Regions from separate parts of the Homo sapiens genome. Here region 1 is linked to region 2. The links come from fine-mapping of genetic effects on plasma protein levels. A gene starts in region 2. The other region holds a variant in brackets. All regions are shown on one strand. Distances are between the middles of the regions.

Evidence for each region. PIP is the posterior inclusion probability: the model's chance that the variant is causal. The UK Biobank Pharma Proteomics Project read protein levels with antibody pairs (Olink). The fine-mapping took linkage between variants from a reference panel, not from the people measured, so its PIPs are less certain.
Region 1: its variant is fine-mapped to the plasma level of the FABP2 protein (UK Biobank, PIP 0.98).

The regions. Positions count from the first base shown.
Region 1 is chr4:119,349,887-119,365,547 of GRCh38, forward strand. It overlaps the pseudogene KLHL2P1. Among named protein-coding and RNA genes, the nearest start is that of FABP2, 36 kb to the left of the region's middle. The variant C/T (reference allele first, on the strand shown) is at 9,576.
Region 2 is chr4:119,313,043-119,328,703 of GRCh38, forward strand. It overlaps FABP2 (fatty acid binding protein 2), which reads right to left and starts at 9,096. Exons shown (of 4, transcript NM_000134.4): 1 at 8,994-9,096; 2 at 7,628-7,800; 3 at 6,494-6,601; 4 at 4,208-6,049. The coding sequence starts at 9,060. The coding sequence ends at 5,999.

The DNA.
Region 1 (15,661 bases), 37 kb after region 2:
TGGATAAATTCATTTTGCAATGGATAAGTGAAGTTACCAGTTTATGTTGGGCTTCAGGAGTCCTGATTAAAGATCCTTGAGATGGAATTTTTTTTTTTTTTTTGAGATGGAGTCTCGCTCTGTCATCAGGCTGGAGTGCAGTGGCATGATCTCAGCTCACTGCAGCCTCCGTCTCCCGGTTTCAAGCGATTCTCCTGCCTCAGCCTCCTGAGTAGCTGGGACTATAGGCATGCGAGATGGGAATGTTTTTAGCCATATATGTATTCTTACACTTTCATGTTTTGGAGGACTTCCTTTTTTTTATCAATAAAAGTAGATATGAGACAGGGTGCGGTGGCTTATGCCTATAATCCCAGTACTTTGGGAGGCCAAGGCAGAAGAATCATTTGAGGCCATGAGTTCAAGGCTGCAGTGAGCTGTGATTACACAATTGCACTTCATCCTGGGCAACAGAATGAGACTCTGTCTCAAAAAAAAAGGTAGAGATGATGTGGTATTTGCCAGTGAAAGTGTTTGGCTCACTCTGTAATGTATAGTGATGTTCAATAAATGTTTGTTGACTGAAATCCTACATAGCTAGAATATCCATGTTTAAGACTAATTTTAAAGTGCCATTAGTTACGTTAAGTAAAAATGCTATATTTTATGTATTTATTCAATTTATTTGAATCTCTGTCACCCAGGCTGGAGTGAGTGGTGTGGACTTAGCTTACTGTAACCTCCACCTCCCGGGGTCATGCAGTTCTCCTGCCTCAGGCTCTCACGTAGCTGGGATTACAGGCATGTACCAGCATGCCTGGCTAATTTTTGTATTTTTAGTAGAGATAGGGTTTTGCCATGTTGGCCAGGCTGGTGTTGGACTCCTGACCTCACATGATCCGCCTGCCTTGGCCTCCCAAAGCGCTGGGATTACAGGCGTGAGCCCCTGCGCCCAGCCAAAATGCTACATTTTAAATTGGCACTTGCTTTACTTTTTATTCATCTAGTCATTTACTTATCTAACCAGTGTTTATTGGGTATCTACTAGATGTCAGACATGTTATACAGAGATAAGAAAGGCTTCATCCCTGTTCTCAGTGAGCTTAAGAATTCAGAGGAGGAGAACTAGGTAAAGAGTTGATTATGACAGAGTGGATCTGCATGAGGTACCCAACTGTACCTAATCCAGCCTTGGGCCACCAACAGATAAGGCTACCTAGAGAGGTTCCAGTGGAGATTAGCCTGGGAAATGAGTGGGTGGGGAGACAGAGAGGACAATGTTCAACAAGAGCATCAGGGTAAGACATTGCTTTGTGTCTGTAGAAAACAACAAACAGCTTCTCAATAATGTATTTCAAGTTTAGAAATAGCGGGAGGAGAGAGAGAAGGCTAGACAATGAATCAGGGGCTGGACATGTGTGCTTGGACTGGGAGAAACCAAAGGATTTTTGAACTCCGTGCTCAAATTTGTGGAGTCAGTACTGGAGGCAGGAAAATAATTAGGAGGTGGCTACATTGGTGTGAGCAAGAGATTATAGGATCCCCAATGGTGAGAAGGTGAGAAGATTTATTTGAGATCTATCCAAGGTTAATTCTGCAAGTTTTAGTGAACTGTGGGACTGGTGGGTAAGGAAGAGGAGAGAATCAAGGATGACTCTCACTCAGGTTTTTAGTATAGGTGTTTGTATGGATAGCATAATGTAGCTTCAGAGTTCTGATATAAGCTCAGAGTTATGTGATCAAAACATAAACAAGAAACTATAATCTCTATAGAGACTATGGGAGGTTACAAATGGTAAGGATAAACTATGTACAGTATCATTGGATAGCCTAGTTTATTTTCTGTTTGTTTTAAATAGGACAGAGTCTTGCTGTGTTGCCCAGGCTAGTCTTGAACTCCTGGGCTCAAGTGATTCTCCTGCTTCAGTCTCCCTAGTAGCTGGGATTACAAGAGTGAGCCACAGCACCTGACTCTCATTGATAGTTTTTAAAATGCGTTAGCAATCAGAAATCTCACAAAGCCATACTGTTTAAAGATTTCCTCTGAAAACACAGCAAAGGGCAAAAACTAAGGTAATAATGTAACAACTGGAATTAGATATAAATAACTTTTACAATACTCTTTAGTATGGGCTTTGATTCATAGTAATTAGAATTTTTAAACCATTAATACAGTCATGGGCACATTTTTTGTTTTTCTTACTGTTTTTGTAAATTAATATAAAAATATTAAAATGTTTTCAAAACAGTATATAATTGAAATTGAATTTATTGGAAGCAGATACAGTTTTCTGGGGAGAAAAATAATCTTAAAAATGACAAATATTTGAACTAGCAAAATGCATCTTATAGCAATACCTTAAGAACTATAATATTAAAAACTGTTTGGCAGAGAACTAATTATTTTTCAGTCATACATGTAAATTAAAGTCCCACTTGGTTTTGCCTAAGGTAAGTCACGCTTAACTGAGTACTGGCTGTTTGGCTTTGTGCTCATGTGGCCCCAGGCCCTGAAGGGCTTTGCATATTATTGGGGCTCTGTAGGTGAATCAGTTATGGCCTTTGTCTCAAGTCCAAGTGGGAATCACCAGAATGTCTTAACTTTTGGCACAAAAGAGGCTTCAGTTTATACAGACTATCAGTTTATACCCCAACTATTCACAGGATCCAGCAAGAATAGGATAGAGGAAGGTGCCTTATATGTGGCTGAAGACTTATTTTTCTGTATTCCTTGACCTTCCTTTTTCCCCCTTTCTGTAAGCACGGGAAAAACATTTGCTGTAGCACCAGACATACAACTCAGTCCCCTTTCATCCTGCTATGTAGGTATAGGTACATCTTTCTCATTAACTCTCCTACTTCCCTTGTCATACAAAGAGATGTTTTTCTTCCTGGGAAGTAGCAGGGTAGTTTTTTGGGATATTTTAGCTCTGAGGTGAACAGCTTCTTTCTGAGATCTTGTCAGAGATAATCTCCAGGGAAGAACGCGGTTAAATGTACACCACTATTGTTATTTCTCTTCTCCCAGGGTTTTGTTTACAAAGGAATTTTGTGTAATTATGATTTCCCATAGACTTTTCTGATAGTTTATGGTTGCTGACAGTGCATTGTATCAGAAAAAGAAGTGAGCTTTCAAGAAATCTTGAGGCTATGTTATGGTTTAATAAGAGATGCTGGGTTAAAGTGAAGATGATGAATAGTGGCACGTTCTCATGCTTCTTTTACCTTTGAAACTTAGTGAATTCTAGAGCCAAATCTTTTTTGCCCATGGCCCTCAGCATTATTCTTGGACTGTCCTTTTAGTTTTTAATTGAATCCCTCCCCACCCGCATTCAATTGCTTGTGTCTCCATGTATCATAGTTCACTTATGTTGTCACACCTCGGTGCTTAAACTTGCCTCCTACTCTCCCCAAGTCTCCTTGGCTTAGGGACCATCCCTTCTCTTTCCTCCTTCCCTATTTCTTTTCCACAAGTGGGTATTAGGAAGAAAGTCTTGTACTGTTTTTTTAGCAGGCAGTTTTGTGGAAGGATACCTGGTTTTAGTAATAAAGCTGGTATGGAAATGACTTCAGCGTGAAGTTGCTGCAGTTAACAAACAGGAACTGAATCTGAGGTAGAAGATCTCTGTAATAAGCTTTGCTATTGACTAACTCTTTGTTATTATTGTGATCCCTGTTATGCCTTGCATTCTCTAAGCATCATAGGTAATTTGTTTTCTCGTTGTCTCTGGCATGAGGATTGTGACCTCTCACTGAGGGTGGAGCCTCTGTGTCTGGTGCAGGCTATGCATGCCCCGGCAGGCATTTGTGTGTTTGTTGAAGGAGTAATGCTAACCAGGTGGGTCCTTTTCAGCAGCTGTTCATTGCTATTAGCCAAAGGCAGTAACATCATTACTCTTCTAGTCATGACTAGAAATCCATAAAGACAACAAATGCCCAAAAGCAGGGACAGCCTCAGCTACTGATCCTATAGCCACAAGAATAGTTCATGCAGCTGGACATATGGCACGTTCATTGTTGTGATATGATTTGCAGGTGCAAGTGGGTAACAAAAGTACATTTTATGATTTGCTCAGGTAAGCGTTTGGAAGAGGAAGGGGAGTGTTTTCAGCCTGCAAAAAGTGGCTGATTATGCTGCCTGTTGAATACAGTGAGTGGCAAGAAGATGTATCAATGTGCATTGGCACTGGAACTTCCACAGCAGTGTCTTGCTGTAACATCACTCTTATTCCTTTGTGTTTTAGGTGAGATGAGTGAGAGCCGAGCAAAGAGAGTTAGAATAAAAGAGGTAGATGGCTGGACCCTGAGGATGCTAATTGATTACGTTTACACTGCAGAAATTCAGGTTACAGAAGAAAATGTACAGGTAAGAGTAAACACTTCACACCATCTAGCTTTTTATGCATACAGTTTTTTTTAATAAAAAAAGCACACCCACACAGTATACATTTTTCACCAAAATAATAGGATTCATTGTGAAAATTGTATTTCTAAAAAATATTTGGAATGATTACACCTTTTTAGTAATGTTTCTGAGTTCAGTATCTTTTATATTCTTTAAGATCTGAGATACAGATCCTTTAGTTCTCTGAATGATGCTTGTTCTTTCATGAAAACACTGTCATATTCATTTATAACTGTTCATTGATGCTGCCCACAATTTCTCTTTATTCCTTGGAAGGATATAGTCTACAAAGAATGTTTTTGACTGCCAATATTCTTTCTGTCTTTTTTTTTTTTTTTTTTGATACCCAATCTTGCTCTGTCTCTCAGGTTGGAGCGCGGTGGTGTGATCATGGATCACGCAGCCTCGACCTCCTAGGCTCAGGGAGTCCTCCCGCTGCAGCCTCCCAAGTAGCTGGGACTACAGGCATGTGCCACTATGCCCAGCGAATTTTCTTATTTTTTTTGTAGAGAGGTCTCACTATGTTCCCCAGGCTGATCTCAAACTCTTGGGCTCAAGTGATCCGCCCTCTTCAGCCTCCCAAAGTGCTGGGATTATAGGTGTGAACCACCATATGCCCAGCCTATTCTTTGTTTTACTATTTGAGCATCCTCTTTAAGTGATTCTGGAGTTTAGGTAAAAGTTGATATTGCATCTTATATTCTATAAAGAACAAATGTTTTATGTGTGTTACATAAATGTTTAAATAATACAGATGGATGTGGAGTAAAAGGTGAAAATCCCTCTTCAGAAAATGGACCTTCTCTTCGATACCCCAGTTCACATACATTGATTCACTTCTTCCTCTCTAGAGGGCAGCTTCTGTTATGTACTGTGAATCCCTTCAGACCATTTTCCATGCATTTATTCACACAAACGTACACACAATTGTTTTACATAAGAAATACTATACTTGTTCTGAAACTTGCTTTTTGAACTGAGCAGTGTCTTAGGGGTCTTCACACATTAGTGTATATGGGTCTAACTCATGTTAATCAGCTATATATATATATAGTATGATTTTTTCACCTGTATAAAAACAGTGCAATGAGTGGACATTTTTATATTTGCATCCCCAAATTTTATAAGCTGGATTCCTCAAAATGGAATTGGTGAATCAAAGAGTACATGCATATATTAATTTTTTGATAGCAATGCCAAATTGCCATCTGAAAATGTGTGTTTATTTATATTCCTTCTAACAGGGACACTGTGTTTTGAGGACAACAAAAATAACTAGGACTAAATTCTTAAGAAATAATCTTTAAATTCTACTTGCACAAATAGGAAGTTGTTGGTTCAATCCTTATCCCTGCTAACTAGTTGAAATATGCTACAAAATGAATTCGGAGACTGAAATCTTTGCACTTGTTAAGACATGCTATCGATTGTTCCATGTGAAATACTGGCAGTAGTAAGGCCTCCTGGTGATCTTTCCCAGATGGCCTCATTAGCTTTTGCTTAGAAGTTCCAGTTATGAGGTAAGGCATTTGAAAAACCTTGGTCAATATTGGAGTTGTTTCTAAATGTATGCATCAGATGCTAGATGAACTTTTTTTTTTTTTTAACATGGAAGAAAGTGTTTGGTATATGTCATGAGATCACTGAACTAATACGTCATCTCATTCTGGTCTTTTAGGTACATTTAGACTATTTGCTAGATTCTGGGGCATTGTTTTCAACAAGAGTTTATCTTAGTTTCTTTTTGTTCATTCTTTTTATTCATTTTAGTGCATGGGCCTCATTATGTCCTTATATTTGACCTTCAACAAATGAATTACTGATTTCTTTGATTCACATAATGGGCCACATGGGAAAAAATTGAGAAAAATCCTTTAGGCCTTAGAGACTAAACTGTGTGAATTCAGCCCTGAATGTTGTTTGTAGTAGTTCTTGTGGTGGGGACATGGGCCTATTAGGAATTAGGAGAACGCCTCTCATGTTTCTTTTAATAACTATCATGTTCCAGTCCTGAAATATTAGTCATCACAGCCTTTCAGAAAACTCTTGCCATCCTAATTTGCCTCTTGTGTATATATTGCTTAGCTTTTAGAATATGCAGGAATACATTCTAAGAGTTACATTTGGCAGGCTTATTAAATGCTTAATATTTGTATAGTTTTGTTTTGTTTTTAAGAGGGAGAGGGATATCTCTTCAGCATAGGGCTATCATGGTTTGTAAAGCTTTCTTTTATTTTCAATTGAAAAATACTTGTTTTGGAAAAGGCAGTTGAGAAATAAATTAGATTAAAAGTAGCTACTTTTTCCATGACATGTGTTTTTCAATGAAAAAAATAAGACTATACCATATAAAGATACACCAGACTCCTATTTCCTGCTTTGTGTATTTTTTGTCAATCTATATTTTGTTAAATCTTTCTTGTAAAGTGTTGTCCACCTTAAAGAAGAAGGTGTCTGTTGTTATTAATGTTAAGCTGAAGTTTTAAGTGGCCCTAACTGGAAGCCGTGCTCTGAATTTATATGCCCTGAAGGTGCTGACAGTGGGAACAGAAGTTTCTGTAATTCAAATGTTTCTTGGTGGTGGTATATTTTTCTCACTGGACCTAGACTCAAATCTTTTACCAGGTGACCTCCCTTTTGTAAGTTTCTGTTTTAGTAGTAAAGTACAATATTGGGCTAGAAAGTATCTTTGGGATTGCATGTTTTGGTGTAGAATCATTGTGCTGTGGAATGCTGAGGTCCAGCCATCTGTTGGCAGTCAGTTGGCGACAGAACAGGGCTGTAACCCTGGTTTCCCAGATTACTAGTGTAGGGTCTCTTCCATGATACCATATGGTCTCCTTATTACACTAATTTTAAACAATATAATACCTATTTGAAGTGAAGGTTGTTAACTTGGAGTCAGAATGAGAGAATGAGTAATTTAAAAAATTAACTCCAAACAAGGGACTATTGTTATTATAGTCCCTTCTGATTTATACAAGCAATAGGGCTTGAATTCTTGGCCATTCCAGGTTTCCTAGCTTTTTGTGTGTTTGTTGCTGCTGTTGTTTTTTTGTTTGTTTAGGTTTTTAAACTTTGGCTTTATGTTTGGATATTTGGTTTTATTTATGGCAAAATTGGAGGATAATTTGAGCTAAATGAATTTACAGTTTTTTTTTAAAGGGAGATAAAAGGAGAACCAATATTTTACCTATGACTACACTTGTAATTCAACTTTTTTGTTGTTGTTGCTGTTGAGTGAATTAAAATTTAACTTGTGTCTAGAGTTTCAAAGCAAACTTTATGAACTGCATAAATCTGGGAAATAGAGAAAATACAGCCAAAGGCTATTGAAAACTATGCTCTTTGACATTTGGTGGTTATGGACACCTTTGAGAATATGATGAAAAACTGTCAACCCTTTTCTAAGGAAAGGGCACATTAGCTTATCTACACAAAGTTTTGCATACATTTTCAATACACTTTCAGAGAATCCGTGTACCTTGCTGCTTGCCCCACCTTCCACTGTTAAGAATACTTGGCTTTATTTTTAAATTTTTAAATTTTTTTATTTTATTGAGACAGAGTCTTGCTCTGTTGCCCAGGCTGTGGTCAGTGGTGTGATCTTGGCTCGTTGCAACCTCCGCTTCCCAGGTTCAAGCAATTCTCCCACCTCAGCCTTCCAAGTAGCTGGGACTACAGACATGCACCATCACGCCCGGCTAATTTTGTATTTTTAGTAGAGATGGGGTTTCACCATGTTGGCCAGGCTGGTCTTGAACTCCTGACCTCAAGCAGTCTGCCAACCTTGGCCTCCTCAAGTGCTGGGATTATAGGCATGAGCTACCACTCCCGGCCAAGAATACTTGGCTTTAGGTATAAAAAATATAAATATGTAAGTGTGTGTGAGTCTGTGTGTGTATGTGCATGTATGAAGGATTTTCACATGGGTATATCTCTAGTTATATGCTAAGCATTTTATATGTAGCTCATTTGATGTTTTTGCCTCCATGTAAGATAGGTGTTACCCCAATGTGATTGAAGAAATAGGTTTAAGAAGGTTAAATAATTTGCTCAACGTCACACAGCAACTATTAAATCGTCATTAACTAGTATTGCTTACAAAGAGAGTTTATAAATTCAAAAATGTAAATGTCTTTATAACTGAAAATTTTTTTTCACGATCCAAAAATTATTCAAGGTACATGCTATGTCATTAGATGTGTTAATTAACACTTTTGGAGAATCCTAAAGGATCTTGAACTTCTTAAAGCATTTACTTCATTGCTAAATTTGTAGTTTTGTTACATGAGTTTGACTTCTCCGCCTTTGGGTATTTGTTTTGGCTTCCTAAAAGTAGGTAAGAGTTTCTCACTTGATGTAAGTGTTAAAAACAAAGGTAATGCTGTTAATAAACAGTGCCCATGAAAGTAAATGCTCTCATTCCTAAATTAATATTATGAGTACTCATCTACAGATTCTTTCCATATTAGAACTGTTATCATCTAGAAGAATTTGAGAAACATCTGACAGTTTTGAATGGATAGGTTTTAAAAAGTTCATGAAATATATGTTGGATGAATTGGAATTATTTGAGACAGACACTTTCTATCTCTTTAGAAATGAAACAAAATTTAAATGAGAGTTTTTCAAGGGACATCTAAAATCAGTTATTGGTAATAAACAGACTAAATGTTTAACACAGTCTCAGTATAGTAGAAAATTCAATATAGTGCGTCCATTTTATTGGTGGTATAGGGCAGGTTGTTGTTGTTTTGCTTCAAACCAGAACTGCTAGGAGTATGCTGTATAGATAGTGTTTTACTCTGCATGTTCCCAAAAGGAGGACATCACATGGAGGGGCTTACATGGTACCAGGCCTGTTGACATAGTTGAAAAAGCTTTAAGTTAGCTTAATCAATAAAAAGCCAGCCAAAGTAGGGAAATCACCAAAACAGAATACATGTGTACCCTAAATATTTTAACCTCAAACATGTAGGTTTACAATTGTATTCCAATCTTTGTTTGTAAAACTAAGTATGGTAAGCTGTTTCAAGAGCCACATGTCCTTTTTTGCACAAACCATACCATAATCATGCACCAACTATAATTTCCAGGCTTTTTTTTTAAGTGCAGCAAGAACTGAACTTGAAATCTCAAGGCAAAATCTTCTTTGAATTATACAGTTTATCTTTCATTCCTCCCATGT[C/T]TAATTGGATTGAAAACATTTATTTTTTTTTTTCCAGTAACACGTTGATCAAGCCACTCCAAAGCAGCCAACTTAGTTTTCATAGAAAGAGCTCTTTTTACATTCACATTTCATTGAATTCATTTACTTAAATTGTGTAATTTCAATAAGTGCAAGTGTCATAAACAGATGTGGGAGCAAATCCAACATGTATGAATTGGTAAAATGCATCCCAGCTGGAGGAGCAGACGTGTGCAAGCACAGTAGAGTGTAGTTACTGAGGGCATGGAGAGAGTTGGTTCATCAGGTGAGTAGGTAAAGTGGATTTTGGTGAAGAGTGCTTTTGCTTTGTGTATTTCTATATTGTGTGGGTAAACATTGAAATGAAATTCCCAGTAGGTGGAGATTTGTTTTAAAAATCTGTCTTAAAAATATTTAAGACACCCCATCAGTTAAACAGTCATTGATGGAATTTCTGATAAGTACTCGGTCCTGGTGCTACAAAAAAAAAAAAAAAAAAATGAACAGGGAACAAAGTAATGAATAGAGTATATACTTAGAGTGGGTTTGGATCTTGGCTTTGCTGTTTAAATGCCATGTGACCTTGCCTAAGTTGCTTAACCTCTGATTGGCATTGGAGCTTGAGCCAGAGATGAATAGGGCTAGGCGTAGGAGCACTGACCTGATGGAGCAAGCATTCAACAAGTATTTTTTTTCTGTTTGTGTTTGTGTTTGTGTTTTTTTTTGACATTTTCAAAAAATAATTTTAAAACTGAGGGTAGGCTGGGCACAGTGGCTCATGCCTGTAATCCCAGCACTTTGGGAGGGATGCCAAGGGAGGCGGATCACCTGAGCTCAGGAGTTCAAGGCCAGCCTGCCCAACATGGTGAAACCTCATCTCTACTAAAATTACAAAAGTTAGCCAGGCGTGGTGGTGCACACTTGTGGTCCCAGCTACTCGTGAGGCTGAGGCAGGAGAATCGCTTGAACCCGGGAGGTGGAGGTTGCAGTAAACCAAGATCGTACCACTGCACTCCAGCCTGGGCAGCAGAGTGAGATTTCATCTCAAAATAACAATAACAAAAAAAACTGAGGGTAGCATGCAGTCCGAACTGAAATGTTTAGAGGTGAGTTACAGATTCAGGTCTGAATGAGATGCTGCAGAGAGCCTGGCAGCAGGACTTTCGTGGTGTTGGTAGTGGTGGTAGCATATACTCTTAGGCTGATGGCAGTGCCTTTATCCAGGAAGAGCTGCCCTGGGTGAACACTCAAGCCTATAGCTCTTATGTTTCTGGCTTGTCTAGAAAGAGACTTGGTAAGGGCTGGGCAATTGTAATGACCACAACCAAGTAATTTTGAGATTGTGGAGGGTCTGCATTCCCGTAGGAAACTGGGCAACAAACCCAGGATCTGGGGCTTGTTATGTGGGGCATTAGGAGTCACGCTGTGGCTTGGCAAGCATGAGGGTACTTGGGGGAGCACATCACGTTTAGGGCAGCAAGATTAACGCCAGACTGTAAACACTGATATGGTGCCCAATAAGCTTTGTGGTATTGGTCAGGATTAGTTTAGGACCGAATTGAACTGCACTTGAAGATCTAAGATTTGTAAGACCTGTAGCTGGATCAGGCCAGATCAGGTATGGATGAAGAACCACTTTACTGCTTTTTATACATGGCTTACCCTTTCCCTTCCCTATATCTAAGCTGTTGAGCTTACCTCTTTTTTTCACTGCCAGTATTGATCCTGATGAATTTCATCTTTCAATCAATAGTTTACTAAATATTTATGGGGTATCTATTCTATGCCAGACACTGTTCCAACCATTGGTGTTACAATGTCAGGCAGGATAGATAAGGTCCTTGTCTTGAAAGGCTTTACATTGTAGAGGAGGGGTAGGGACGAGACAAATAATATACCCATAGATAGAGAAACAGGTGAATTTTACCTGTTATTCTCTGGGGAGGGGTCGTTTGAGCAGAGACTTGAATGAAAAGAAGGGAGTGATGTAAAAATAAAGGCAGAGAACATTCCAAGCAGAAAGAGCAAAGGACCTGAGATGTGAATAAGTTTGGCGTGTTTTATGGGCCAGAAAGAAAAGGGCGATTATTATTTGAGCAGAGTAAATGATGAGAGAGTGGAGAAAGATGAGATTAGATTAGAAAGGTAAATAGGGCCAGACAAAGTGGGTTTGTAGACTATGATAAGGAGGTTTGATTTTGTTCCAGTTGTAGTTTGGGCAGGGAATTCATGCTTTAGACAGTTTGTTCCCCTTTCCCATCTGCTAGCTGGAGGATGGACTGTGGGGGCAGTAGAAGAAGTTGGAGGCCCTTTAGATACCTGTTGGGGTAGGCTAAGTGAGAGACTAGTGGCTTGGGCCTGGGTTGTTGGCGTGAGATGGTGAACAATAGATTTGGGAGATATTTGGAGGTAGGGCCAATGGAATTTACTAATGGATTTGCATGACGGGATGGAGGAAGGAGAATGATCAAGAATGGCTCCTGCATTTTTGGCCTGAGCAACTGGGTGGATTATAGTGCTGTTGTCTGAGATGGTGAAGACATGGGATGGGGACATATTTTCGGGGTGGTGGGAATTAATGGTTCTATTTTGGTTATGTTAACTTTTACCAGTTGGGCTTACAAGTGGAGATGCTGAATAGGTTGGTTCTGTGATGGGAAGGGGTCAGGTTAGGGAGGTAGATTTGATGTATTGGTGGCATATTGAAGTGGATGAGGTCACTTTAAGAGGTAGTGTAGACAGAGAAAGCAAGCAAGCCAAAGACATAATCTGGGGCATTCCAGATTTTAGATGAGCAGATGAGGGAGATGGAGTACTGGTGATGTAGGAGGAAAAGCAGGTGTATGTGGTGTCACAGAATGCTAGTTCTAGAGAAGAAAGTGCTTCAAGGAGACAGTGTTTGGCTGTGTCAGATGTTCTTGATAGGTCAAGTAAGTGAATTGAGCCATATCAGTGTAGGTGTCGCTACATTCGTTTGCCTGAGACAGTCCTATTTTATGCCTGCTAATCTGGTGTCTTCTCTGATTAGTGTTTACTTTACTCAGAAATGTTCCAGTGTGGATGATGAATTATATGGTCCCACTGGTCATTAGTGACCTTGGGAAAAGCTATTTAGAGGTGATGGTGAGAATGAAAAGTGGTTTGGAGTGGACTAAGAATAAGTGGACTCAGAGAGTACCGAAAGTTCTTTCAATGCCCTTTGCTGTGAAAGGGGAGAGAATGTGCTGGCTGAAGGGGATGATGAGTTTAAGGGTGTTTTTGTTTGTTTGTTTTGTTTTGTTTTTTGATGGGTAATATTTTAAAGCATTTTTATGTTAATTAGAATAACCTAGTAGAAAAGTGAAAGTTGATGTGATAAAGGGGAGAAAGAAACAAAGGGTATAATTGCAAAAGTGAGAGAGGTTGCCATCTAAAACAAAATGAAGGGGCTTACCTTAGATGGGAGCAGGAAAACTTCTCTGTTAACCAGACAGAAGGCAGACTGTGTTGTTGTCAGATACAAGTTAGTGGCTTGGATGGTGGAAAGGTAGGTATTTTATCAGCTTGCATATAATTATAAAGGCTGTGGCAAGTAATCAGCCAAAAGGAAGATGAGGAAGAAGGATGCTGGAGATTTGAACTAAAGATGATAAATCATTGTCTTGCAAAGGATGAAGATGAATTTACTAGTGAAGTGTAGTCGAATTGTCAGGCCATATTGAGAGCTCATTTGAGATTTGCAGTCATAAATATCAGGTAGAATGGTTGTGTGATTTTCTTCAGCCATGTTATACCACTTATACTTAGTATAGAGATGATGAATGTGTTAGCTATTGCCACAAAAATGCCACAGAACAAAGTATGCCAAAGCTCAGTGGCTTAATAAAAAAATCATTTATTCTTATGGATTTGCAGATTGGCTGAGGATCAACTAATCTAGGCTGAGGTTGGCTGGGTGATTGGCTCTACACCGTGTTTTAAAAATTATTCTGGAATAAGAAAGTCTAGAACAAGACTACATGAGTGGGTAGCTGAGAAAAAGTGGAGGAGGAAGTGGTAGTTGGAACTCAGGAAACCGAGATGTTCTATTTGGATGTTTATGTCATCAAAAATTGTCAGAAGTTGTGGTGGAGAGAACGGTGATTTAGGTTTTAAAAAGTTCTCTCTCTCGTGTGTTTGAGTTAGCATGACGACAACACTCTGGGGTGATTGTAGTACCATACTAAATCTTTGATTTAGAACCACCTGTTCCATCTCAGTATATTAGATGAAGTTGGCCAAGTAAAAAAAGTCATCTGTAAATGAGTAGGAGTGACTGAGGTGTCGTTAGATAGTCCCAATGAGGAAGGTGAGCAGACATGTGCTTCCAAGGAGCAGGGGTTTTTGAAGAAAGGAGAAAGGAAGTAGCAATGGGGAGCTGCATCTCCAGGCCTTAAAGCAGCATTTTTGTTTTTCAGGTGTGGGTGGTGATCAACTAGTGGGTCAAGAAATAAACTTAGTAGGTCATTATTAGCATTTAAGAGAAAAATTAGAGCCAAGAGTAGGAAATGCTATTCAAGCTTAAAGTCTATTTCAGAAGAAAATAGCAGATCCTAGCAAGTCTGCATGTTTTGTGAAACTTTGAGTTCTAGGTTGTGAGGTAAAAAGTCTTACTATGTAGTGTGGTCAAAAGAATTGGAAAATTCAGCTATAAGTTACTTGGAGTGTGAGAGAGAAAAGTTTCATGAATAGTAGAGATGTGACTGAATATATGTTATTGATTATGCATAAATACAGTGATTTTTATGTTATTTGTGTATATATTTTATTTTTCTAAACTGTATTCTTTAGCATGCATTTCTAGCATGGAAATACCCAACAGATGACTAATAGATGTTGACTGCTTAGATGTCAGGAAGACATAGGTACTCAGTGGTAATCCAGAAAGTATACTTTGTTTTCTATGCTGGCTTATGGTGCAATTCCTGGAACAGGGCACAGAGATTCAGATGGACCTGCTTGAGATGGTGAGCAATGAAGGTGATGTCACAGTAGGGGTTAGACATCGCTTGCCCAATCTATTTCTTGGCTTTGCAGGTCTAGAAACTATTTTGTTAGCTCTTTCAGAGTTGATCAGACTTTTGGGAAATAGCTCAGAGTAGCCAAAATCAGAAAACTAATACATGAACCAAAATGATCTTAAACTAATTTTCAGCGGGTAACAGGTGTTTCTAGGGACTGTGTTTACATTATCCGGTGTGCATCATTCTCAGGATCTAGATACCTAAGTGATAGAATTAGTAATCAGAGCTTCATTGGGTGAGCACAAGGAAAGGGAATTTACTTCAAAGGGATAATGGAAAGTCTTACCAAACTGGCATCCCACTGCAAAGTATACCTTTCTAGTGATTTGAGTATTGATTACATACTGTGAAACCCAATGTCTCCTTACCTTTCATGGTACTGGGAAAACTCTGACAAATAATTGCTCTTTGGATAACCCATTTCTGAATTTTTTTGTAATCTGGTAGTTGTCTTTTTCTATCCCCAAGCACTTGAGGATGTGCCAAACTCCACCAGACACAGTGATTCATTGACACAGAGATTCTCAACTAGAGGGCAGGGTGCCCTGGTATTTTTAATTCTTATTTATCTCCTTGTGGAGATTTAATAATGTGGACCATTTTAAACCTCATGTTAAAAATAGTTTCTTCTGGCTGGGTACGGTGGCTCACGCCTGTAATCCCAGCACTTTGTTTGGGAGGCTGAGGCAGGTGGATCATGAGGTCAGGAGATAGAGACCATCCTGGCTAACACAGTGAAACCCCGTCTCCACTAAAAATACAAAAAATTAGCTGGGCGTGGTGGCGGGTGCCTGTGGTCCCAGCTACTAGGGAGGCTGAGGCAGGAGAATGGCGTGAACCCAGGAGGCGGAGCTTGCAGTAAGCCGAGATCACCCCACTGCACTCCAGCCTGGGCAACAGAGTGAGACTCCATCTCAAAAAAAAAAAAAAAAATAGTCTGTTCTGACAGAGACTATCACTATATATTTGATTATGTTTTGAGCTTTGTTACAGTCATATTCCAGATCTGCTCCTCCAACACTGCCCTCCACCCATTTTGAGTGG
Region 2 (15,661 bases):
TGACTGCCCTTGGGTCAGGTGGCCATTTTTGACCTAATCAGATATGGCTAGGGTGATCTGGTTCAGAATAAGTTTATCTGTTTGTAAAGAACAACAAGGACTTATTCCCTCAGTAGATCTTCTGGGTTTAAGAAAGAATGGGGAAAGCTGGCTTTCTGAGGCTGGGGCTGCCCAGCATGCCCCAAATTACAATCATTAATATTTGCTATGTGTTAGAGGGATACAGTGTGGGGTATAGATATAAGACCCTATCCTTGCCCTCATATAGCTCACAAACTAGAGGAGGCAGGCAAGCAGATTGAATATAGAGTAATGGTATTGCTGGAGTTGAACACTTTGTGCCATGGGAACATGCAGGACAAACACTCAGTCTGGACTGGGATTGTGAAATAACCTCCATCTTTACTGAGGTTTCTCTGTTCCAAGTATATGTTAAAGAGAGGAAGTTCTGTGTCACAATGATGCCCTTCAGTATCCTTTTTTTAAAAAAAATCTTGTTTAAAAGTTTCTAAATTAAAACCCAGTGAAGGCATTGAGCATATACTCCTTTACCTAAAAGACATTTTGTTTTCAAGTTTAGGAAGAGTACTGTTCTTTGACTTTCAGGTGTTTTCTCCAGTGAATATAGTGAGTGTGCCAGAATCATTTGATAAGAACAGTTACACTACCTGTAATCTGAGAGATGTGGCTTTGAAACTGGGCTGACATTTAGGGAGCACTTCCTTGCCTGTCCTCCTTCAGAGTTCTACTACTCCTTCATTTCACAGCAGTCCTAACTACTAATTGTTTAAGCTCCCTCTTTCATTCCTGGAAATCTTGATTACATGGCAGGGAGGACTTCTCGCAATCCATCATTCTAATGGAATCTTCAATGAGGATATATATGGATGAGAGAAGCCCTCTGGAACACTATGCTTTATCCATGACTATTGATTTCCACCATTTGCTTCAAACTTTCATCTTCTGCCACTGTCTTGCATACTCTTCTTTTCCAGTCAATTCTCCAGTAAAATCTGTTCCAGACAATAGCTTGAAGGTTGGTCATCGGGCCTGAAGGCAATATACACCACCCTGCATATTAGCACCCACTGAGTGAGAGTATAACCCTACTCTAGATGACCATCCAATGCTGAAGATGATGATGCTATTCTTGGTATTTCGATTCAGACCCAAGATGAGCCTGAGAGTTTGTATCCATTTGAGGAAATTCTTAATCACCTAAATATCTCTACCAATAGTGTTCATCATTAAATACTTGCTGTCTGGCACATAGTGCTTTTTTAAAATTATTTTTTGTTCAATAAATGAAAGCAGTTTTAGTGGATCGGTTCAAGAGGAGTCTTTGTATTAGCTTTGTTTAGTGTGGAGTTTGGAACTGAAGAAGCATTTAATAATTAACATTTTAAAGTGTAGACTACGGTATATCAGACCTTTCTGGAACACTCCCTAGACACTGAAATGCGGCAAAGACACTGCATTGGAAACCTCCGAAAGAGTCTGTATCCTTGGCCAGCAGATGGCATTCTTATACTATAGTTTAGAGAAAGCAAGTAGCAAAAGGTAAAGAAGCACTTCTTAATGATGAAGTGACCATCTACCTCCTTTTTCCCTTCCCCATCACCACATAACCTTATCTCACTTCCATTTTATCCCAGGCAACTATCTTTTCCATCCATCCATTCACCCTTCTTTAGGTGCCTAGAGATGTCTTGCTACCATTCTCTCTAGTTGCTCATAGGAAAATATCTTTTGTACTTATTAATAGTCAATCCATAGAAATAGGACAAGCCACATAATTTTCAGGGCCCTGTGTAAAATGAAAATGCAGAAGTTGTTCAAAAAGTATTGAGAATTTTAGGACAGTAAGAAAAGAGCATTAAACCAAGCACAGGGCCCTCTGAGCCCACACAAGCCATACACCCATGAAACCAGCCATACTTTATAATGTAAATATTTCCCTCTTCCCATCCTACCTTCCATTGTTCTAATGTCCTGTCCCCTGTGACCCACACCAAAAAGGCTGCTTAAGAAAGGAAGGAATCACTAAATGTCATTCAGACATCATAGAATCTTAGCACTGAAAGAAAATTTGGAGATCTAGTTCAATCCTCTCATTTTAAAGATGATTAAACTACATTCCAAAGAGATGAAGAGACTCTCCCAAAGTCCCCAGCTAGTTATGTCACAGACTGGACTGGAACTAAGTATTCTCATCTACCAGGCCAAGGCTCACTCTCTCACGCAGACTCCATGAGAGGTATTTTAAGAAAAGAGTTTTCCCATCTACTCAGGATATACTTTGCCCCATTTTCTCTAGAGGAGAAGGGTACATGTTTATGTTACATTTGAGTACCAGGTATATGCCAGGCATTACACTCGATGTTTTATACATAATACCTCAATTGCAACAAGCTCAGAAAATCATTACATTTTCCCCATTTTTCAAATGAGAAAAATAGAGAATCAGAACTTGAATTTTAGTCAGTAAATGGGCAGACAAGAATTTGGGCAAGTCTGTGATTCTAAAACCCATTCTTTTTCACCACATCATTCCTAAATTTTAGGAAAGCTGAGTCAGCCTGTGTTTCCTGAACATTGGTCTTGTTTTTGGTCAGCTCTGGGTGATTTGGGGACTCTTTCCAGGCTATGTTCTTCAAATTTACCAGGTTTGCTACTGCCTTGGTGTCTTTGCTCCAGGGTGTTTCCTCTGCTTGAAACACTCTTCCCCCAGATATTTCATGAAAAACAGGACCACGTGTTGGAGAGGTAACAGGGCATCTGATCATATAGGGTCTTACAGGTCATTGTAAGAACATTGGCTTTTTCCTCTGAGTGAAAATGGAAGCCATTGCAGCAGTTTGAGCAGATAAGCGATGTGATCAGATTTAGATTTTTAAAGGATCCTTCTGGCTGCTGTGTAGAAAAAGAGACTAAAGGGGTGGAGTAGGGAAGGTAGAAGTTCTTGGGCTTTTTAGAGAGTTGTAACAGTAATCCAGGAAAAAGATAATGGTGGCTCATACTAAGGTGATAGCAGTGGAAGTGATGGGAAGTGGTTGGATTCTGGAGTTATATGTGTATGTAAGTACTATATTTTTAACTTCTTGTTATGGAAAATCTCAAATACATACAGAAGTACAGAGATGAATATAATGAATTCCTGTGTTCCTATTCAGTGAACCTATCATATGTTATTATGTGTCAGGCACTTTGCAACAGCTGCAAGAATTGCCAACTTGTATCAATCTTCCTCCCCAACCCTAGATTGGGGAGAAAGCAATTTGAAGCAAATCCCAGATACCATATTGCATGTGTAAATATTTCAGCTTCTACTACTCCAACTGCTTCTGACTGCCCCGACATTCTGCTATCTACCCTATGGTTACTGCTTGTTCATAGTTTCAGGTACTCATGACTTCTACTTATTGTCTGCTCTATTTGTCCTCTTTAAGCCTTTTTCCTTGCTATCAACTACTAACTGTGTACTTCTCAAATTCAAACTCCCTAGAAAGAGGTTCTTGCAGGTTCAGTTAGTTGTCATTTTTCCTTCTACACAGAGCTCATGATCTGGCCAAATTGTGGTAGATTGGCTGCTCTTGGGTCAGGGACCCTCTTTTGGCCAAGCAGGGTGGTGTAATGACAAGGTTGGTTTTCCCGAAAAACGGTTGTTGAAATGGAAGTCACTTAACAAATAATAGGCTGTTCTCCAATACTAATAAATAGTGGAAATTTAATTCTAGAAAGGATATAAATGGTGAAAAAAGTCAGCCTGCAATGAGACTAGAAATAGATAAGTGTCTAATCACTCAACACCATTATTTTACAGTCTGACCTGACTCATTTAGAGTGCTATTCTTGGGTGCCACTGAGGAATTAAGGACATTTTTTTTCTTAATATATTTTTGTTTATAACAGGCTGAGTAATAGCATAGATCATAATGATCTAGGCTGAAAGTCAAGACCTACATTTAATTCTTCTGTTCATCATGGACTTTGTACAATATTAGACAAGCTAATAAACTTCTTTGTGCCTTTGTCTCTCTCAGTTTTTGTATTGAGATTAATACCTGCCTTTTCCTGATTCATATATGGTAGACACATAAGATTAGAGGGATAAAAATACATTGAGCTTTTATGAAGAGAAGCATGTGAAAATCTAAATAATTACTATTTCCTATGTGAAGATTTTTATGAAATTATAAAATGAACATAGATTTAAGGTATTTTTATATAAATTTAAGGAGTACAAGTATAGTTTTGTTACATTGATATATTGCATAGTGGTAAAGTCTGGGCTGTAACCATCACCCCCTGAATAATGTACATTGTACCCATTAAGTAAATTATCATCGCCCCCTGCCAACCCTCCAACTCTTCCAAGTCTCCAGTGTCTATTATTCTACACTCTGGTGTGTCCATGTGTATACATTATTTAGCTCCCACTTATAAGTGAGAACACGCAGTATTCAGCTTTCAAAGATTACATACTCTCTATTCATTTTCATCAGGTACTCAAACATTTTTCTTCCTACATTTTAATATATATGTCATATGTATATACCACTTAGAACAGTGTGTGGCAAGTAGTAAGAACTATGTAAATGTTAAGCTGTTATCTACATCAGTGTGAAAAAGAATTTGTCAAAAGTCTATAGAGTTGCAGCTGCAAATGCTTAAAAATTGTACCCCCTCTCCATCCCCTAATATGTACCCTGCTAAAATACAATTATGTGAAGCACATAAAATTTTACGTCATGTGAAAATATGAATAAAAGGAAACTTTTTGAGCCCTGGAAAATTGGCAATGTATGTGTTTATGTGAAAAAACCCACAACAACAAAAAAGAAGGGGGTGGTTAAAAATAACATTGATAACTGATATCTCCATTGTTCTCAAAGACAAGTTAGTGGACAGGCTGCATCAGAATCACCAGGAAATTTTCTAGAATTCTTGGTTCTATTAGCGATTCTGATATAATAGAATAACAGTGGAGATTAAGAATGCAGAAATTGTTTAAGTTTCTCAGATGATCCTGATTTTCAGCCAAGCGTGGGAATGACTGATGTGTACAAAAATGTAATACAATAATTTAATTTAATGTAGTACATCATTTATTTCCTATCATCCTATTCAAAGTGGTATGTATTGGGAAATATCTGCCCCCAGGGAAGAGAGCTGAGAGGATATCTATCAAAATCAGAATGGCAATTATCTCTGGATTATGAGTTATGGAAATACTTATTTTACATTTGTGTTTCTTATTTCTAAGTTTTCTGGTTGAGCATATATTATTTTTATAATAATAGATATTACTTACAACCAGTGCCAGAAAATTATTCACAACCAGTTCAAGATGTTAAAGACTCATATGCAGCCTATGCTTTTAGTTTATCAAATGTAAAGAAAAAAAACAACTTGAGAGGCTGAGGCAGGAGGATTGCTTGAGGCCAGGGGTTCAAGACCAGCCTGGGCAATATAGCAAGACCCCATCTCTAAAAAAAATAAAAAGAAAACAAAACAAAAATTAGCTGGGCACTGTGGAATGTACCCATAGTCCTAGCTACTCAGAAGCCTGAGGCAGGAAGATTGCATGAGTCCAGGAGTTTGAGGTTACAGTGAGCTATGATCTCTCCACTACATTCCAGCCTGAGTGAAAGAGTAAGACCCTCTCTCTACGAAAACAGTCTGTCAATTCATATTCACATACTTTTTCTTTTAAAAGGCAAGGCTACATATAAAGCAACATGGACGCAATATTTATTTTTGTTTTTTAAAATGTCACAAATTCTTTTAGTAAATATATATCTTAGAGAATATAAAACAAATTAAATCCTAATTAGCTTTTACTTCTTTTGCTTTGGCATGAATGGAAATATACCAATGTTTATAAAAGGACCAATCAATCAGTAACCTTATACTTGATGGGGTGAAATAAATAGTTCTGGTACAATATAGATCTTCTGTCCAATTTGTATTTTGGACTGTGCGCCAAGAATAATGCTCAATCCTTTTTAAAGATCCTTTTGGCTTCTACTCCTTCATATACATAAGTCTGAAAGGTGTTAACAAACAGAAGAATTTATCTTTAAGGTTTACATCTAAGTTAAGAAAAAGTAGTATTATAGTTTTATACTATATGAGTTTATACTATTTTTATATTATATATTCATATATATTATATGAGTATGAGTTTATACAATTTTTTCTTGTACTTGATAGCAAGATTTATACAGATATGGGATACAGCCATTTTAAAACACATGTTGGTTTGTAGTCATTTATATTTTCAGTTAAAATAGGCATTGATTATTTGACATATATAAGTTGTCTTTAGTAAATAGGCATCAGAAAATAGCTATACAATATTTTTAAAATCAGTAAGATTTATGAGAAAAGAAGTAGTCAGTTTACTGAAGATCTGGCTCAGCAGTGACAAAAATTATTGTTTTGTAGTAATTTTTGCCTTTTGAAAATAGCTATAAATTTGACAACTCACCTGGACTAGTTCATCACCTATAATTTCTCGGACAGTATTCAGTTCGTTTCCATTGTCTGTCCGTTTGAATTTTCCAATAAGTTTATTTCCCTCAAGGCTCCAGGTCCCCTACATAATAATAATAATAATAATAATAATAATAATGGCATTTATTAGGGTCTTACACATGTCAGGCACTGTTCTGAGTTCTGTAGACACACTTTTTCATTTAATCTTCATGGTGACCCTATGAAACTGATACTATTATCTCTACTTTGCAGAAGAGGAGACTGTAAAATGGCACAGTGATTCACCTAAAGTCACAGAGTGAGGATTGAACCTAGGCCATTGGGCTACAGAGTATGTGTTGATAACCATTATGCTTGTTCTCTTCAATAATTTCCATACGCTGAATTTTAAGGCAGATGAGCAGCACTTCTTTCTGAATCTTTCATGTTACGTGTCCAGAAATATAGTCATGGTTAAAATTAGTTTCATGGAGATGTTAACAACTCTGTGCTTGTTTTAATTTGTGTGATTGTGGTACTAATTAAAGAAAGACATAACTTATGATAAAACATTCAGTAGTTAAATTGTCATTACAAACATGTAATTTAAATAGAAAAATGTTGAGGCTAAAAAAAGTTTTTAAAAAATTTGTTGAAAATGATGACTTCCTAAAATGTGTTATCTTAAACATGAAAAGGTACACTCCCAATGACCTACAATACATCAAATCTTTCCATTTGGTAACTCACTCATTTGTTCATCTATTCATTTCTTTTATTATTTCAACATGTTAAATTGCTATTACAGTTAAGTTACATATTAACTCTAAAGGCTTCTTTTGCTGTACTGTTTAAAAACACAGTTTTAAATTTCTTTATGAATAGGTCTATATTCAGTCATTCAAAAGATAGTTTTCTAATTCTTACTGTTCAATTCAGATTCTTCACAGATGCGTATAAAAATAAAAACATATTTAAATATCCTGCCAATTTGTGCAATATATAATGTAGACAAACTTCATTGGCTTCTTCAGTTAGTGAAGGAGACCTGCATTAATTAAACCATCCAATGAAATAGAGCAGAAATCATTTTAATATTGGGTAGAAAAATCAAGAATGCATTGCTCATAAAAAAAAAAATTCTTACCCTGAGTTCAGTTCCGTCTGCTAGATTGTAATTAAAGGTGACACCAAGTTCAAAAACAACTTCAATGTTTCGAAAAGTGCTTGATTCTTTGACTGTGAATTTATTTCCTTCTTGTGTAATTGTCAGCTTCAAATTGTCATGAGCTGCAAGCTTCCTTTTCACTATATTAACACCTGTAAAAGGTAAGACAATGGAGAAAATAAAGTCAAATCCCATAGGAAGTGTTTATTTTTCCAAGTTATGTTTTGTTTGTTTATTTTGAGGGTGGGAAGAAAACTCGGTAGCATTGCCTTTGCACAAGAACATTCAGATTGCTTCTACAGAAGTTCAGGTTCAATCAGATCAAGAGAACTGATTAAAGTTGTTTTTCCATAACTTGAGAAAAATTAAGTAGAGTACAGAATTATAGAATCTTAGAGCTGAGCAACCTTAATAAGATTAACAAACTGTTCATTTCAGTGTTAAGTAAATCAAATTCTAGAAATATCAAATGAAGGATTAAAATGTATATTCATATATTTATAAGGAAGCACATCTTTAATTCCACATATACAGTATTCTTTTTTCTTAAATGCCCCTTTGTTTTTCTTAGTGGCTTTAACATTTTGAACTTTATAGTTCTATTTGCTTCTTGTGGCATTTCTTTCTGACACAAAAATGAGAAAATTAGCAAATATTAAGCCAAAATCACTATAAGAATCTACAACTTTTATAAATTTAAACTTAGAGTTCCTAAACTGTAAGCTATAATTGATGCAGATTTTTCTTTTAGGGGAATGACACAAATTTGTTTGCCTATCTTGTATAGTATATGGGCTGCCAGAGTATTGGTATCAAATTATAAATCAGTTAAATTAAACGCCCTGGAGAAAACTACACAGCTTCTCAAGATTATTCCAAAACTTTTTTAAGTTAGAAGAAATCAGAATTAAATCTAACTTATTCAGCGCTATAAATTTTAAGAGAACCTTTTCCATTACTTTCTTATATGGTCTTTGTTTTTCCATCTCCTAGAATTTAACATTTTCAGATCTGGAAGTTATCATTACACGCTGCCATTTTCTTACTGTAAACAACAAAAAAAGTCATTTTTCAGTTAAAGAGGGAAGGAAACATTTCTGGATCTTTTTGGTGTGTTTCAGAGAACAGCACTCAAAGAATCTTTTCTTCCATTAGTGAGATAGTGGATTCTTCCTAATGTAAGAAGGGAGAATATGGTTTCCCTCCTCTGAACATCTTCTGGATCCTCTCTACCACATCAGGAGCTATCTGTAAGCTATCTGTAATCTCCTAGAGATTTAGGAGTTAGAAAGAAAAATGTTTGTAAGAAAGCAAAGAATGAGCCACAAAGAAATAAAGTCTTTACCCATTTTTTCCATGAACTTGTCATAGTTTTCACTCCGGTCTACCTTCCAAGTGCTGTCAAACGCCATGATTTCAGTTGAGTCAGCCTCTAGGCAGCTAGAGATTCAGGTCTGTCCTTGGGCGAGAATTTATTATATTTCTTATCTTAGAACCAACTTCATACTGTGATGTGGAAGCTTAAAGTTCAGGAAATCACCTAACTATGTCAAGCAATTAATTAATTCTTATTAATTAATTCTTAATTCTCGTTCTGTACATTCCTGAGATCTTCTGAAATTCAACTGAATTAAAACATGAGAAGCATACCTATTCTGTCTTAAATTACAGTTTGTGGGCATACTTATTTCAAGAATTAGAATGCATGCCGTCTGAAGATTGTTTTTCTAAGTTCAAAGTGCAGACTATGTTGGAGGTAATATAATTTATAGCATATATCAAATAACATCTGGGAAATGAGACCATGACCTTTCCCTTTTTCACAACAGCAATTATCTTGTAAAGTAAGACTTTATGATGAAATACAGTTGAAAAGTTAAAGTTAATAAGATTCGTTTTCTAATATGTCTTTTTGCATTGTGTTTAGCATTGCCAGGAGTTTGGATAAATATCCTGGCACTTTGTAGGGTGCATGACACACAATAAGTGCTCATTGATTTTTGTCTTGATCCTGAATGGTGATAGGCCACTGAGCAAAAATTCAAGAGGTACAAATGAGGCTGGATGGTGTAAAAACTTGCATAAAAGAAAGAATGAGCTTTAAACATCTGCCATGTGCAGAGAGAACAAAATCCAGTTTTAGCTGTGCCATTAATTAAAACCACTCCTTCATTTTACTCTCAATGCCTCTCATCCCCAAACCCAGTAGAGTCAGAAGCCACAGCTCAATTATGTATGTAGGGTCAGGGTATAGAGGGTAGCTAGAAAGGTACAAAGAAAAGGTCACCATATCTCTCCTTTCCCTACTTCAGGCTGCCAGCCAGGAACAGGCCAAGCTTGGGGAGGAAACTTGGTGTGAAGTAAAGAGTTTTAATTACTAGTCTTAAGATGTTTATTACTAAAATGAGTCTATTATTGTGACTGAATGTGACCAGATAACATCTTATTAACTAAGGGTCAGGAAAGAAGCTCTAGGGCTTGCCCAAGATATTACTTAGGGTCAAGGGAAGATAAATCTAACAGATTTGAACAGAACTTTGGGGAACAGAATCCCAGTTTTTAAATTTTGATATTATTTTATATTTTGATTTTTAAAAATCTTTTAAACATGTTAGATATTGTTTGATTTTTTATTTCGAGTTGCCCACTTTTTATTTTATTAAGTAAGCACTTTAAAAAGCAAACTATTTTCTACTAGCTCTATTATTTCATTAAAAAAGAAAAAGAGGCCGGGCGCGGTGGCTCGCGCCTGTAATCCCAGCACTTTGGGAGGCCGAGGCGGGCGGATCACGAGGTCAGGAGATCGAGACCATCCTGGCTAACACGGTGAAACCCCGTCTCTACTAAAAATGCAAAAAAAATTAGCCGGGCGTGGTGGTGGGCGCCTGTAGTCCCAGCTGCTCGGGAGGCTGAGGCAGGAGAATGGCGTGAACCCGGGAGGCGGAGCTTGCAGTGAGCCGAGATCGTGCCACTGCACTCCAGCCTGGGCGACAGAGCGAGACTCCGTCTCAAAAAACAAAAAAACAAAAAAACAAAAAAACAAAAAACAAAAAAAAACAAAAAAGAAAAAGAGTTGCCTGGTGCAGTGGTTCTTGCCTGTAATCCCAGCTATTAGAGAGGCTGAGGCAGGAGAATCACTTCAGGCCAGGAGTTCGAAACCAGCAGTTTGAGGCCAGCCTAAGCAACATAGGGAGAGCCTGGCTGTAACAATTATAATAAAATAAATTAGCCAGGTGTAATGGCACATGCCTGTAGTCCCAGCTACTTGGGAGGCTAAGGCGGGAAGATCTCTTGATCCCAGGAGTTGGAGATTGCAATGAGTTGTGATCATGCCAGTACACTCCAGCCTGGGCAACAGAGAGATCCCATCTCTAAAAAATAAATAATTTTTTAAATGTCAAAAAAGGAAAGAAAACACATATACACACTCATGAGTTGGGGACAAAGGTCATAATGGGAAGTCCTTTACATTCATAATTTAGCTTTACTTTCAAAATTAGGTACATTGTGATTTTTTAATCTTTTTTCAAAGAATTAAAACTGTATCACTTGGGAGCTATCAACCTAATACACTTTCTTTCTTTTTTTATTACACTTTAAGTTTTAGGGCACATGTGCACAACGTGCAGGTTTGTTACATATGTACACATGTGCCATGTTGGTGTGCTGCACCCATTAACTCGTCATTTAACATTAGGTATACCTCCTAATGCTATCCCTACCCCCTCCCCCCACCCCATAACAGGCCCCGGTGTGTGATGTTCCCCTTCCTGTGTCTAAGTGTTCTCATTGTTCAATTCCCACCTATAAGTGAGAACATGCGGTCTTTGGTTTTTTGTCCTTGCGATAGTTTGCTGAGAATGATGGCTTCCAGCTTCATCCATGTCCCTACAAAGGACATGGACTCATCATTTTTTATGGCTGCATAGTATTCCATGGTGTATATGTGCCACATTTTCTTAATCCAGTCTATCATTGTTGGACATTTGGGTTGGTTCCAAGTCTTTGCTATTGTGAATAGTGCCCCTATAAACATATGTGTGCATGTGTCTTTATAGCAGCATGTTTTATAATCCTTTGGTTATATACCCAGTAATGGGATGGCTGGGTCAAATGGTATTTCTAGTTCTAGATCCCTGAGGAATCGCCACACTGACTTCCACAAGGGTTGAACTAGTTTACAGTCCCCTCAACAGTGTAAAAGTGTTCCTATTTCTCCACATCCTCTCCAGCACCTGTTGTTTCCTGACTTTTTAATGATTGCCATTCTAACTGGTGTGAGATGGTATCTCATTGTGGTTTTGATTTGCATTTCTCTGATGGCCAGTGATGATGAGCATTTTTTCATGTGTCTTTTGGCTGCATAAATGTCTTCTTTTGAGAAGTGTCTGTTCATATCCTTCGCCCACTTGTTGATGTGGTTGTTTATTTTTTTCCTGTAAATTTGTTTGAGTTCATTGTAGATTCTGGATATTAGCCCTTTGTCAGATGAGTAGATTGCAAAAATTTTCGCCCATTCTGTAGGTTGCCTGTTCACCCTGATGGTAGTTTCTTTTGCTGTGCAGAAGCTCTTTAGTTTAATTAGATCTCATTTGTCAATTTTGGCTTTTGTTGCCATTGCTTTTGGTGTTTTTAGTCATGAAGTACTTGCCCATGCCTATGTCCTGAATGGTATTGCCTAGGTTTTCTTCTAGGGTTTTTGTGGTTTTAGGTCTAACATTTAAGTCTTTAATCTATCTTGAATTAATTTTTGTATAAGGTGTAAGGAAGGGATCCAGTTTCAGCTTTCTACATATGGCTAGCCAGTTTTCCCAGCACCATTTATTAAACAGGGAATCCTTTCTCCATTTCTTGTTTTTGTCAGGTTTGTCAAAGATCAGATCGTTGTAGATAAGCAGCATTATTTCTGAGGGCTCTGTTCTGTTCCATTGGTCTATATCTCTATTTTGGTACCAGTACTATGCTGTTTTGGTTACTGTAGCCTTGTAGTATAGTTTGAAGTCAGGTAGCGTGATGCCTCCAGCTTTGTTCTTTTGGCTTAGGATTGACTTGGCAATGTGGGCTTTTTTGGTTCCATATGAACTTTCAAGTAGTTTTTTCCAATTCTGTGAAGAAAGTCATTGGTAGCTTGATGGGGATGGCATTGAATCTATAAATTACTTTGGGAGGATGGCCATTTTCACGATATTGATTCTTCCTACCCATGAGCATGGAATGTTCTTCCATTTGTTTGTATCCTCTTTTATTTCATTGAGCAGTGGTTTGTAGTTCTCCTTGAAGACGTCCTTCATATCCCATGTAAGTTGGATTTCTGGGTATTTTATTCTCTTTGAAGCAATTGTGAATGGGACTTCACTCATGATTTGGCTCTCTGTTTGTCTGTTATTGGTGTATAAGAATGTTTGTGATTTTTGCACATTGATTTTGTATCCTGAGACTTTGCTGAAGTTGCCTATCAGCTTAAGGAGATTTTGGGCTGAGACGATGGGGTTTTCTAGATATACAATCATGTCATCTGCAAACAGGGACAATTTGACTTCCTCTTTTCCTAGTTGAATGTCCTTTATTTCCTTCTCCTGCCTGATTGCCCTGGCCAGAACTTCCAACACTATGTTGAATAGGAGTGGTGAGAGAGGGCATCCCTGTCTTGTGCCAGTTTTGAAAGGGAATGCTTCCAGTTTTTGCCCATTCAGTATGATATTGGCTGTGGGTTTATCATAGATAGCTCTTATTATTTTGAGATATGTCCCATCAATACCTAATATATTGAGAGTTTTTAGCATGAAGGTTGTTGAATTTTGTCAAAGGCCTTTTCTGCATCTATTGAGATAATCATGTGGTTTTTGTTGTTGGTTCTGTTTATATGCTGGATTACATTTATTGATTTGTGTATGTTGAACCAGCCTTGCATCCCAGGGATGAAGCCCACTTGATCATGGTGGATAAACTTTTTGATGTGCTGCTGGAGTTGGTTTGCCAGTATTTTATTGAGGATTTTTGCATCGATGTTCATCAGGGATATTGGTCTAAAATCTCTTTTTTTGTTGTGTCTCTGACAGGCTTTGGTATCAGGATGATGCTGGCCTCATGAAATGAGTTAGGGAGGATTCCCTCTTTTTCTATTGTTTGGAATAGTTTCAGAAGGAATGGTACCAGCTCCTCCTTGTACCTCTGGTAGAATTTGGCTGTGAATCCATCTGGTCCTGGACTTTTTTTGGTTGGTAAGCTATTAATTATTGCCTCAATTTAGGAGCCTGTTACTGGTCTATTCAGAGATTCAACTTCTTCCTGGTTTAGTCTTGGGAGGATGCATGTGCCGAGGAATTTATCCATTTCTTCTAGATTTTCTAGTTTATTTGCGTAGAGGTGTTTATAGTATTCTCTGATGGTAGTTTGTATTTCTGTGGGATTGGTGGTGGTATCCCCTTTATCATTTTTTATTGCATCCATTTGATTCTTCTCTCTTTTCTTCTTTATTAGTCTTGCTAGTGGTCCATCAATTTTGTTGATCTTTTCAAAAAACCAGCTCCAGAATTCATTGATTTTTTGAAGGGTTTTTTATGTCTCTATTACACTTTCAACTTGGAGGGAAGTAGAAAACTTTGTTTAAAGCTGAGGACTCAACAGTCTCTCAGGTAGTTGACTGGCTGTGGTGATTTGTGAACTCAGAAGCCTATGGATAATGAATCCAATCTTTATTTCTAGGTCAGAAAACTACATGTATCTGGTCACTGAAATAAACGTATGGTAGAGTGAAAAGAACATGTGTTTTAGAAACAAGACCCATTGACTTGGGTTTCAGTGCTGACTAAACATACATTACTCTGCAGAATCTTCGTCACATTACTTACTCAATCTCTCTGAGCCTCAGTTTTCTCATCAATAAAATGAAGACAATAATAATACCTGATATGTATATTTTATGAACAAATTACATAAAGCACCCACCTGAAACAACTTATAGATAACAGGTCCTCAACAAACCTTTGTTTCTCTCCTAATTCTCTGAGAAAGGAAATCTGGGAGCAATAACAATGTTTTAGAAGCATCCTAGGTCTCAAACCAGTGATATTTTGTTAAGAAAACCCATGTCATTCTGGTGTTTATGAGAAAGTCACCTAAAAGTTACTTAGGTATTTTATGATTTGCACTAGTGATCAACTTGGGACTGGCTATGCCTTGGATTTGCCTGTTAAGGATAGTATTGCACTGTATCACCCTCTGGGAATACATGTTTCCACTATGTGATCTCATAGCAATTGAAATTAAAGTGTCTGATTCAAGAAGGAAGGTTGGCAGGAAGAAACTAAAGTGGCTTCTTACCATTTTCACCATGACCTAACCCGTGTCTCATGGCCATTTTAAGCTTCGCAGAAGGATCCAAATAGGATAAATATAAAGCAAATAGCCCTTGGGCTCACAGAAGGCTGGTAACAAAATAAGCATGTTAAACTTTCAGTCTTAAATTTATCAGTGGCAGTGACCTAATTTAACCTTAGGTAGGACATCCTGTTATCTCTGTTAAGTAGCATCATTAGTTTTTTTTTTTATTAATGCTCAGATTACATTTTTAACATTACACTTTTCCTTCTCCAGCTACCCAATTCTGTAGCCCCTCGGTTTTTATCACTTATCTGTAGTCCATCTAGAAAATAATATACGGAACTTAGGGACCAATTTCTCTACAGACCTTTTCTACTGATGATATGATTGAGCCAACCAGCTAAGGGCAGACCCAGCCCTTTCTTTTCCATTTTGATAATATTAAAAGACTTGAGTATTGCAGTTTGGGGGTCGTGAGTGGACTAAGTATATGTGTGCATGTGGATGCAGATGCTATGGAGGTAGAGCTATAGCTGTACCCTCTCTCTCTGGGCTCTACAGTCAACATCACCCACGGAGTGGTCTGGAAGAAGTGGAAATCAGCAGAAACTCCTGTGGATCCCTATTCCATTCCTCCAAGGGAAAGTACAAACCACAATCCTTAGCATGGTTTACAAAGCCACTACTTAA